Regions from separate parts of the Homo sapiens genome. Here region 1 is linked to region 2. The links come from fine-mapping of genetic effects on gene expression. A gene starts in region 2. The other region holds a variant in brackets. All regions are shown on one strand. Distances are between the middles of the regions. Region 1 overlaps ZSWIM5 (zinc finger SWIM-type containing 5). Region 2 holds the start of ZSWIM5 (zinc finger SWIM-type containing 5).

What was found. PIP is the estimated chance that this variant, and not a neighbour inherited with it, causes the effect.
Region 1: its variant is fine-mapped to the expression of ZSWIM5 in whole blood (INTERVAL, PIP 0.97).

Annotation. Positions count from the first base shown.
Region 1 is chr1:45,172,422-45,177,800 of GRCh38, reverse strand. The region is part of intron 1 of ZSWIM5 (zinc finger SWIM-type containing 5); the gene reads left to right. Among named protein-coding and RNA genes, the nearest start is that of ZSWIM5, 31 kb to the left of the region's middle. The variant A/TA (reference allele first, on the strand shown) is at 3,231.
Region 2 is chr1:45,204,461-45,209,839 of GRCh38, reverse strand. It overlaps ZSWIM5 (zinc finger SWIM-type containing 5), which reads left to right and starts at 3,235. Exons shown (of 14, transcript NM_020883.2): 1 at 3,235-4,084. The coding sequence starts at 3,490. RefSeq lists silencers at 3,009-3,428, 3,629-3,788 and enhancers at 2,857-3,756, 3,757-4,657.

The sequences.
Region 1 (5,379 bases), 32 kb after region 2:
TCTGCTTGCATTAGACTGGGAAATGCTTTTTAATGTGCTATTGTGTTATTAAAGAATATGATCCCAGGGAAGCAAGAGTGAGAGAAAATGAAATGAGACAGGGAAGGAGGGTAAGGCAACATAAGGATGTGTCATAGAGCTGGTTACTGCTTGGTATCAAGTAGCAACTGATTGCTCAATCTCCCCGAATTGTCTTATAAAGCAGCAGAGAGAATCCCCTTTTATGCCCATCTTTCATTTCATGAGATTCAGACCTGGGAAATATTTTGCTATTAAAGGTATATTTTGCATACCCCTCTGTAACTTTCACCATTATTGATTTCACAGTTTGGGTTGTAGGAATTGTAGAAATTGCTCTATTGCTGTTACCACTCTGTATAACCTGCAAACTTAAGTACCTTAAATTCCCTGTGTATATGGTGTAGGTTTTTCAGTTCCAATGTGGAAAAGGGGGTTGGCCATAGTTCATAGCCTTGTTAGAGTCTATAACAACTCTTAATGATTGGAAGTGTAAAATAAATAAGAACAAGCATTCAGTACATTTAAGAAATTTTTTTCTTTTTCAGTGTCATATTCTTTTCTTCTTTCCTATTATTTTCTTTAGTGTTTATTCCTTATTTTCTGCATACGTTTTAGAAACATAATCACTGTATAGCAAAATAGCTAATTATGAGGTGTCATACAATGATACTGCTCTTCTCTTCCCTCCTCTCTCTAGTTCCTGAATCCTTAATCATTCCCTTTTCTTCTGACTTCCCTTCCTGAAAACTTTAGTCCAAACCTGGGAGAAGCAAGAGAAAAGGAAGTGAGATGGGAAGAAGGGATAGTAGCAGTGGCCTGAAAGGGTATATTGGAGCCCAACTGGAGCAGTGGCCTAGCATGGGGTGCTAGAGCCAAAGTGGGGTGAGGAGGGTATCCACATGAAGGGGGATATAATTTGAGATGTCAGAGTCTGAAAGGGTTGAGGATGACTTTTGTATAGGGGTGAAGGGGAGTGTAGAGCCATAGGGTGTTAGTGTTCAGATGGGGTGAAGTGGGCATAGCAGGGGGTGGCAGCAGTAGGTGCAGGTTTTTTGAGCTTGAGCACAGTGAGAAGAATGTCCTTATTGGCAGGGAGGAGCTGTGGTGGCAATGAAAGATTGGTTATTTATAGATATTGATCAACTAAGTAAATCAATTAAGGATAACAGGAGCCAAATTTCTCACTATCAGAAAAAGTAGCTAAAATGTAGACCAGGCCGGGCGCGGTGGCTCATGCCTGTAATCCCAACACTTTGGGAGGCCAAGGCGGGTGGATCACCTGAGGTCATGAGTTCAAGACCAGCCTGGCCAACATGACGAAACCCCGTCTCTACTAAAAAATAGAAAAATTAGCTCGGTGTGGTGGCATGCACCTGTAGTCTCAGCTACTCAGGAGACTGAGGCAGGAGAATCGCTTGAACCCAGGAGGTGGGGGTGGCAGTGAGCCAAGATTGTGCCATAGCACTCCAGCCTGGGCAACAAGCAAGACTCCGTCTGAAAAATAAAATAAGATAAGAAAAGATAAAGACCAGGGAGAAAAGGTGAATGAACTCTGGGTTTTGGATTGTAATTGGAGATACCCACGTGAACTCATGGTTTTTAGTATATATTGGAATATATATATAATATATATTATATATATATATGGCATTCAGTTAACTGAGAGGGCCTTAGAGCAGTAATATCCCAATAGCAATAAGCACACCTAATGCCCATATCTTGGTTTCCAAGTACTTTTCTCCGATAAAAGGAACAAAGCCTCCTTGGAGAAATGGCTGAATTTAGGGGTGAGGCAGAGAAAGTATCAAATGAGCCTTGAACATGTTCTTGTGCCAGAAAGCAGGGAGGTTCTTAAAGAATTATAGCAACACATCAAAAAGGATACAAAAGCCAGCTTTGAAGAGATTCCCATTAGCCAAATATGGGATGAATTGAGTGTCAAAATAATGATAATAATGGATATAACCAACCCATTGAATGAAATAGAAACCCATGAGTTCATTGTGTCAATGGTTTTTTTTTTTTAAAGGCCAGGTGCCATGGTTCATGCCTATAATCCCAGCACTTCGGGAGGCTGAGGAGGGAAGATCACATGAGCCCAGGAGTTTGAGACCAGCCTGGGCAACATGGCAAAACACCGTCTCTACAAAAATTTTAAAAAATTAGCCGGGCATGGTGGTGCATGCCTGTGGTCTCAGCTACTTTAGGAGGCTGAGGTGGGAGGATCGCTTGGGCCCAGAAGGTTAAGGCTGCAGTGAGCTGGGATTGCTCCACTGCACTGCAGCTTGGGCGACAGAATGAAACCCTGTCTCCAAAATAAAATATTTTTAGAAAGAGTAAGTTGAAAATTTGATGAGTATATTGGCATAATGTCAATATGGTTCCCATGAGATACTTTAATTATAAGGGGAAAAAGGTAACTTTAAAGTGAGGAATCCAGGCAAACACTACTGTGATCAAATGAGCAAAGTTAACCTCACCAGTGATGGGAGAAATCAAAATTGTGTGCCATTTGATAGGAAACAATAAGAACATGGCTCCACTTCTATGATATTACTGCCAAAGATAGATAACCTGAATCTAATCATGATGAAATAACAGGCACTACTGAGGGACATTCTTCAAAATAGCTAGCCTGAAGTCTTCGTAAGTATCAGAAGTCAGAAAGTTAAGACTACAGGTGGTTCCAGATTGAAGGAGAATAAGGAGACATAAAAACTAAATGCATTGTATGACTTTGGACTGGATCCTTATGGGGACATTTTTGGGGCAATTGGCAACAGTTGAATGGGGCCTGTGCATTATATGATAATGTTATGGTATTGATTTCTGATTTTCATGATTTTTATAGTTCTGTAGGAGAATATCTTTGAAGGAAATACACAAAAAAAGTATTCTGGGGTGATAAGGCAGTACGTTGACAACTTACTCTCCAATAACTCATTTAAAAATTATTTGAACTGTACTTGCAACTTTTCTGTAAGTTTGAGATTGTTTCAAAATAAAAAGGGATAAATATGATAATCTTTTTCTTTTTTTTGAGACAGAATCTTGCTCTGTGGCCCAGGCTGTAGTGCAGTGGCGCGATCTCAGCTCACTGCAAACTCCACCTTGCAGGTTCAAGCAATTCTCCTGTCCCAGCTCCCCGAGTAGGAGAGTATTTTGTATTGGGTGTGTCATGCCCAGCTAATTTTTTTTTTTTTTTTTTT[A/TA]GTAGAGTTGGGGTTTCACCATGTTGGCCAGGCAGGTCTCAAACTCCTGGCCTAAAGTGATCCGCCCACCTCGGCTTCCCAAAGTCCTGGGATTACAGGTGTGAGCCACCTCACTGAGCTGATAATGAACTTGAATGAACTTTGATTAATAGTGAGTACTCCTCCAATTACCTATTTATTTTGAATTGTTTAAGAGAATATGTTTTTCTTAGCTTACATTAAAAATCTCCAATTATTTTTATTAAAAGATCACTTTTGAATGTTTTAGTTTTATTTCATATTTTGTTTTGTTTTTTTGAGACAAGGTCTCGCTTTCTCACCCAGGCTGGAATGCAGTGGCCTGATCTTGGCTCACTGCAACCTCTGTCTCCGGGTTCAAGCAATTCTCCTGCCTCAGCCTCCTGAGTAGCTGGGAATACAGGTGTATGACACCATACTTGGCTAATTTTTATATTTTTTGTAGAAATGGGGTTTTACCTTGTTGGCCAGGCTGGTCTCAAATTCCTGACCTCAAGTGATCCACCCACCTTGGCCTCCCAAAGTGCTGGCATTACAGTCGTGAGCCACTGCACCCAGCCTTCATGTTCATTTTAAAGGTTAAATTATAATCAGTACAAACATACGTAACTCATCTAATTTCATTTTAAATGATATTTGGTTCCTACTCAGATTATAAGCTAAAGTTTTTTAAGCAATTATGTCTTTATTGGTTATATAAATTTACAGTCTTTTAAAGCTGTGTAAATATTGCCACTTAATATAGTTTCACTTTTTATTTGCATAACAATAATAACAATATTAAAAGCTAACACAAAGTGCTGGGCGCTTTGCCAAATATTTAACATGTTATAATTTATGTAATCCATATAATATTCTTTTGAGGTATGTACTATTATTATCCCAATTTTACATATGAGGAAATGAGGCCCTGATAAGAAACTAGTCCAAATTTATATAGTTATGTGGGGCAGCTGGGGTTAGAGCCCGGCTCCTGTGTTCAAAATCTTAATCACTGTTCAGTTATGCACAGTGAAAAATGCATGGATAACTTAAGTCCTATAGAGATTGAAAAGAATGAAAAAAACTCAGTTAAATTTAGGAATTATATACTGAAATTGTTTCCTTTTCTGTCTATAAGAAAATTCAGACATAGGTTTTGTATTTGGTGTGTGACACTAATATTTATTGCCTTAGTAACATCCATTCTTGCCTTTTATGTAATATCACACTTTTAATGTACAGACTTAAAGAGAAATTATTTAGTTGGTGCTGTACCAGAGCAGTAGCTCCGTTATTGAGACTAATATATTCAGTTCATATGTTGTGGACCTATTATGTATTCATGCAAAAGTAACGTTTCCTCTAGTAGTACCAAATTGTTTAAATTGGTGATGATTATAATTTTTGAGACAAGGTCTTGCTATGTCACCCAGGCTGGAGTACAGTGGTATGATCATAGTGTACTGCAGCCTTGAACTCTTGGGCTTAAGCAATCCTCCTGCCTCAGCCTCCCAAGAAGTTGGGACCACAGGCACACACCACCATGCCCGGCTAATTTTTTTTATTTTTTGTAGAGACTGGGTCTCACTGTGTTTCCCAGGCTGGTCTCGAATTCCTGGTCTTAAGCAATCTTCCCACCTTGGCTTCCGAAAGCATTGGGATTATAGGCATGAGCACAATGCCTAGCAGCAGTAAGTTTTAACAAAGGAAGAAAAGAGGCACAACATTCTGAAGAGTGATTTTAAGAATGATTTGCATAATAATTATAAACTAAATATATGATTCCTTTGTTTAACTGCTCTAAACTGTGATCCTGTAGGTCCAGATAAGACTACAAGGACATGCTGTGGGAGAAAAAGATATATAGCAATCTTTGTAGTTCCTTTTGGGGGAGGATATTTTTCCCCAAAGAGTTCAGCTGCAAGAGGTAGTGTATCTGAGGCACCTATTAAAATATAAAGCTCTGTATTGTTGATGTTATTGTCTTGTCTAAGGTCTTATGTAGCTTGTTTGCTGCAGAACTACCAATTACAACAGCCATTCATTATCATGTTGCAAAATAAAACAGTTCAAAAATATAAATTAGCACTTTTTCAGCTTTTTTACGTAGTAAAATATTTTTAAAAATATTTTGTTCTTTTCAGTTCAC
Region 2 (5,379 bases):
TAGATATCTTTTCGTCCAATGCCTTCTACAAGCCTTTATTACCTCCTTCCCACACTGTTGGTTTATCTCCAAACTCATCTTTTGCCTCCAGACTTTATCTTTCTCCTGATTCATCCTACATATTTCTGTCTGGTTAATATTCCTAAAACACTGCCTTTTATCATATAACTGTCCTGCTCAAAATACCTTTATTAGCTTCCCTCCACCAACCTAAGAAAATGCAGATTCCTCAAGTTAGCATTTTACAATGCTTTTAAAAGCTTTTCACAATGTCTCCTGTCTCTCTTGCAGTCTTTTCCCACTATTTCTCACCACAAACTTATGGTCCAATTAATCTAGCATTCTTGTTATTCACAACCACATATTGCATATTCCCAAATGTCTTATTTGCTGTGTTATTACCATCTGTATTTATATATTTATGTGCTTATTTTTTATTTTTTATTTATGTTTTTGAGACACAGTCTCACTCTGTCTCCCAGGCTGGCAGTGGTATAATCTCGGCTCAGTGCAACTCCGCCTCCTAGGTTCAAGCAATTCTCCTGCCTCAGCCTCCCGAGTAGCTGGGATTACAGATGCCCACCATCATGCCCAGCTAATTTTTGTATTTTTGGTAGAGGTGGAGTTTCACCATGTTGACCAGGCTTGTCTCGAACTCCTGGCCTCAAGTGATCCACCCACCTCAGCCTCCCAAAGTGTTGGAATTACAGGTGTGAGCCACCACGCCCGCCTAACATGGAGCTTATAGTCTATTTTGGGAAACAGACATTAAGCAAATAAACACATAAATATAGGCTAGGCGCCATGGCTCACACTTGTAATCCCAGCACTTTGGGAGGCTGAAGCGGGCAGATCACTTGAAGCCGGAGTTTGAGACCAGCCTGGTCAATGTGGTAAAACCCCATCTCTACTAAAAATACAAAAATTAGCTGGGCATGGTGGCATACACGCCTGTAGACCCAGCTACTTGGGAGGCTGAGGCAAGAGAATCACTTGAACCCAGGAGGCGGAAGTTGCAGTGAGCCAAGATTGTGCCACTGCACTCCAACCTGGGTGTGACAGAGTGAGACTGCATCTCAAAAAAAAAAAAAAAAAAAAAAAAGACAGTAACTGATTAAATCAGAATAACATATTCATTGATTCAAAGTGCAAATATTTTCTGAACATCTTCTATGTGTAGGCATTTTGGCAGGTGGTAGAAATAGGCCCTTACATGGAAATGGTTCCTGCCCTTCCACAGCTCATAGTCTAGTTAGGGGGACAGGCATTAAAGGAATATTCGTTCTCCCAAAAAACTCTGATAAATTATAGGAAAGAAAATAGTGTGTGTTATGGAAGCCTGTAAATGTGGTACCAGATTCAAGGTGGAGTAGGGATTATGCTATTTTGCAGTAATCTATTTATAGTTATTTACAGATATAAATCCATTTACCAATATAAACAGATTTCTTTTTCTTTCTTTTTTTGTTTTTTTAGAGAGGGTCTTGCTCTGTTGCCTGGGCTAGAGTGCAGTGGCATGATCATAGCTTACTGTAACCTTGAACTCCTGGGCTCAATCAATCCTCCTACATCAGCCTTCAGGGTAGCTAGGACTACAGGGTGTAGGCCACTAATCCCTGCTATTTTTTATTTCTTGTGTAGAGATGGGGTCTCCAGTCTGCTCTGTTGCCCAGGCTGGTCTAGAACTCCTGGCCTCAAGGGATCCTCCACTTTGGCCTCCCAAAGCCTTGGGATTACAGGCATGCGCCACTGCATCTGGCCTAAACAGATACTTATTGAGTACCTACTACACTGAATAAGCAAACAATTTGAATTACTTCTAATTCCAGCCAGCCTGGGCAACATAGGGAGACCGCCCCTCTACAAAAATTTAGAATTAGCTGGGTGTGGTGCTGTGCATCTGTTGTCCTAGTTATTCTGGAGGCTGAGATGGAAGGATAGTTTGAGTCCAAGAGTTTGAGGTTGCAGTGATCACCCCACTGCACTCCGGGCTGGACATCAGAGTGAGATCCTGTCTCTAAAAAAACTTTTTTTAAAGTGAATTATTTCTAATTCTTACAACATTTATGTGTAGAAGCATTATTACTAGCTCCCTTTTGCAAATGATTTAATAGAATCATGAATAGCATCACACACAGCAAGTGTGATTCACACCCAATTCTGCCTGTGCTCTTTAATTCTGAGATTACAGCAAAACCAAACTGTGGCTCCAGCCTGTCTCCAATCATTTACTCTCTTCTTACTCTTATTTTATCCTACACTCTAAATCTCTCTTACTTTGAAGGGCAAACTCAACTATAGAAACTCTTTTAATACAGTTCTTGGAACGTTTTAAAGTTGTAGAGATTAGTTTGTCAGCAAATTCTGAAATAATCTGAGCTTTCTTGATCGAGCAAGAAACAGTAACTTACAATTGCGTGTTGTTTATGGAGTTAGTGATGAAGCTGCCATTCTTGAGCACCCACTATGTGCCAGGCAGAGGATAAATTATAGTGAAGGAAATAGACATGATTCTCACTCTCATGGAGTTGACAGTCAGACATTAAACAAATATATAAAAATACAACTATGTAAAGGTGTAGAAGACTGAGCCAAGTGAGGAAAACATGAAAGACCTAATTCAGATTGGAGGTAGGGGATCAGAGAATTCTACCAAAAAACACGCAAAAGTGTTTTGTATTCTAGGATGCAAGGTGCTAAACCCTCCAAAAGACCCCACCAGGATGCAACCCCCGTGGCGATAAGATCTTGATGCCCCATTGTCAAGGGGTGGTGCGACTTTGTCCCACTCTGGGGTGGGGTGACCGCCGGCTTTATCCTACATTGTTGTGGCGTGAGGTGAGTTTTCATCATCCGAACTTTCTGATGTTTTCCCCTAGTGTCTTCTTTCCCAGCGTCTTTCTGCCAGATCTTCCGCTCTGCTGTGACAACCTCCTGTCACATCAGTACCGTTGGAGCTGGATTGTTTTTTTCTCCTTGTACCCCGCGAGCCTATAACTTCACGGAGGCGGCTCCTTGGATGGCTTATGGCCCCGCCATTTCATTCAGTCACACAGTCCATTCCTGTCTGGCCGGCGGCAGGTGGGTTGGAGGTGCGCGGGCGGGCGGGCGGGCGTGCGAGAGCGTCCGGCGCTCCTCTCCCCTCCGCGGTCGCCGGATCCGCGAGAGCGCTCGGCTCGCGTTCTAGGCTGTTTGCGCCTGGAGCGCGCCGCGGGCCCGCGCTCGCTCCCGCCTGTCTTCGCGTCCGCGGCGGCCAGGACACCGCGCGCCGCCTCACGCTACCCTGCAGGCCGCCCGCGTCTGCCCTCGCGGCGCGCTCCCGGGCCCGGCCGCGGTTCCCCACTCGGGCCGGCTGGCTCGCGGGTTCTCTCGCCCCGCCCCCCTCGGCGCCACCGCTGGGCGCTTGCGCGGGGCGCGTGGCCGTGGCCAGGGTCTCCGCCGCAGCCCGAGCAGCCGCCGCCGCCTCAGTCAGTCAGTCAGTCCCCAGCAATGGCGGACGGAGGTGAGCGAGAGGAGCTGCTCTCGCCGTCACCGGTCTCTCCGGCTAAGCGGCAGTGTTCGTGGCCCAGCCCGCAGGCTCATCACCCTCGCGGTTCGCCTGGGGCAGCCGGCGGAGGGGCAGGGGGCGTCGGCAGCAGCTGCCTGGTCCTCGGGGCCCGCCCCCACCTGCAGCCGGATTCCTTACTGGACTGCGCCGCCAAGACGGTGGCGGAAAAGTGGGCATACGAACGGGTGGAGGAGCGCTTCGAGCGGATCCCGGAGCCCGTGCAGCGCCGCATCGTCTACTGGTCCTTCCCGCGGAATGAGCGGGAGATCTGCATGTACTCCAGCTTCCAGTACCGGGGCGGCCCCGGCGCCGGCGCTGCTGGCGGCGCCGCGGGGGCTTCGCCGGCCGAGGAGGGGCCGCAGCCACCCCCCGGGGCCGCCGCTCCGGCCGGCTCCGCCCCCGGGGGCGTCGCGGCTGGGGCATCCCCCGGGCTGGGCGCAGGGGCCGGCGCGGCCGGCTGCGGTGGCGAGGGGCTCCCGTTCCGCCGGGGCATCCGTCTGCTGGACAGCGGCTCCGTGGAGAACGTGCTGCAAGTCGGTATGTGCTCGTCCAGGCGTTCTCGGGTCCTCAGCCTCCTCTTCCGCGGGTGCCTCTTCTCGGCCCGAGCCCTGGGGCCGAGACCCCGGCCTTCTGCCCAACTCCTGTACCCCTGCCGAAGGACGAACAAGTCACAAAAACTTTTTTCAACCTTTCACTCAGGTCCACCACTGCTCTTTCCTCCACTGACCCTCTACCCCAATTTCTTTTTGTTTGAAGAGTGAATAGATCTCTCTTCTTCACTCTTTCTATTCCCCACACCAAGGCAAAGAGAATGGGGAGGTATGACTTTTTGGATGTAATAATTTCAGAAATGTGTTGTCCTAATTTAAGTTTGGAGAGGAGAGGATTGTTAGTAAATCTGGAACAAGCGGTTTTAGAGGGAGCGTTTGAGGGACAGACTGTCAGAGGCAATCTATAGCCCTAGCCGATTGAGTCTCGATGAAATTAACACTGGGAAAAAAGCCCCAACAAAATACTGCATGTTTCAGACAGTTTTAATTGTCTGCGTTAGGATTTTTCCCCTGGACCGGTGATGCTTGGGAATCTAGGCTGCGGACTAACAATAACCGAAGATGGAAATGTGACAGCTTCTCCTCCACACCCCCACCCAAGGAAAAAAAAAAAAAAAGCCATACAATCTGGAGTGGGGGTGGGGTCTCTCTTCCTTGTCAGACTGGGGTAAATCAAAAGCTGGTCACGCTGGGTTTTTCAAAAGCTTCTCATTTAACAAGTCCTATTTGCTTTTATCTTTTTGTTATGGAAAAATATATTATACAAATGATTTCTTCCTTTACTCCTCCGGAGCTTCTAGTCAGTTTGTTAATCTTATTAAATATATAAATACAGTGCTTCTGATTTGTGGAATGGTTAAGGAGAAGGATAAAAAAATGATTAACATTGACTTTGCTATGTGGAAAATTAAAACACGAATTTTTTTCTATTTGGATTATTATGGCATTCTGGAAGTACATATCTTTATGCGTTTTATTGTACACTATATGCTCGTATTAATTGAAGAAAATACTGATTTTTGAAAGGAGTTGAAGGGAGGTTGTTTTTAGAATTAAACAAGCACAGAAAGACACAAACCCCAGACATCTAGCTCTCCAGGTAAAACCTGGAGAAAACATTTGAAAAATGTTTTTCTTTGAATCGTGCTGTTTCATATAAAGTAATCTGCTTCTGGTTATTGAGAATCATTGATTCCTGTGTTTCTAACCAAAACAACAGCATACCACAACTTGTTTTGCAAATGTGAAATGTAAATTTATCCTGTGCCAGAATATAGTGAC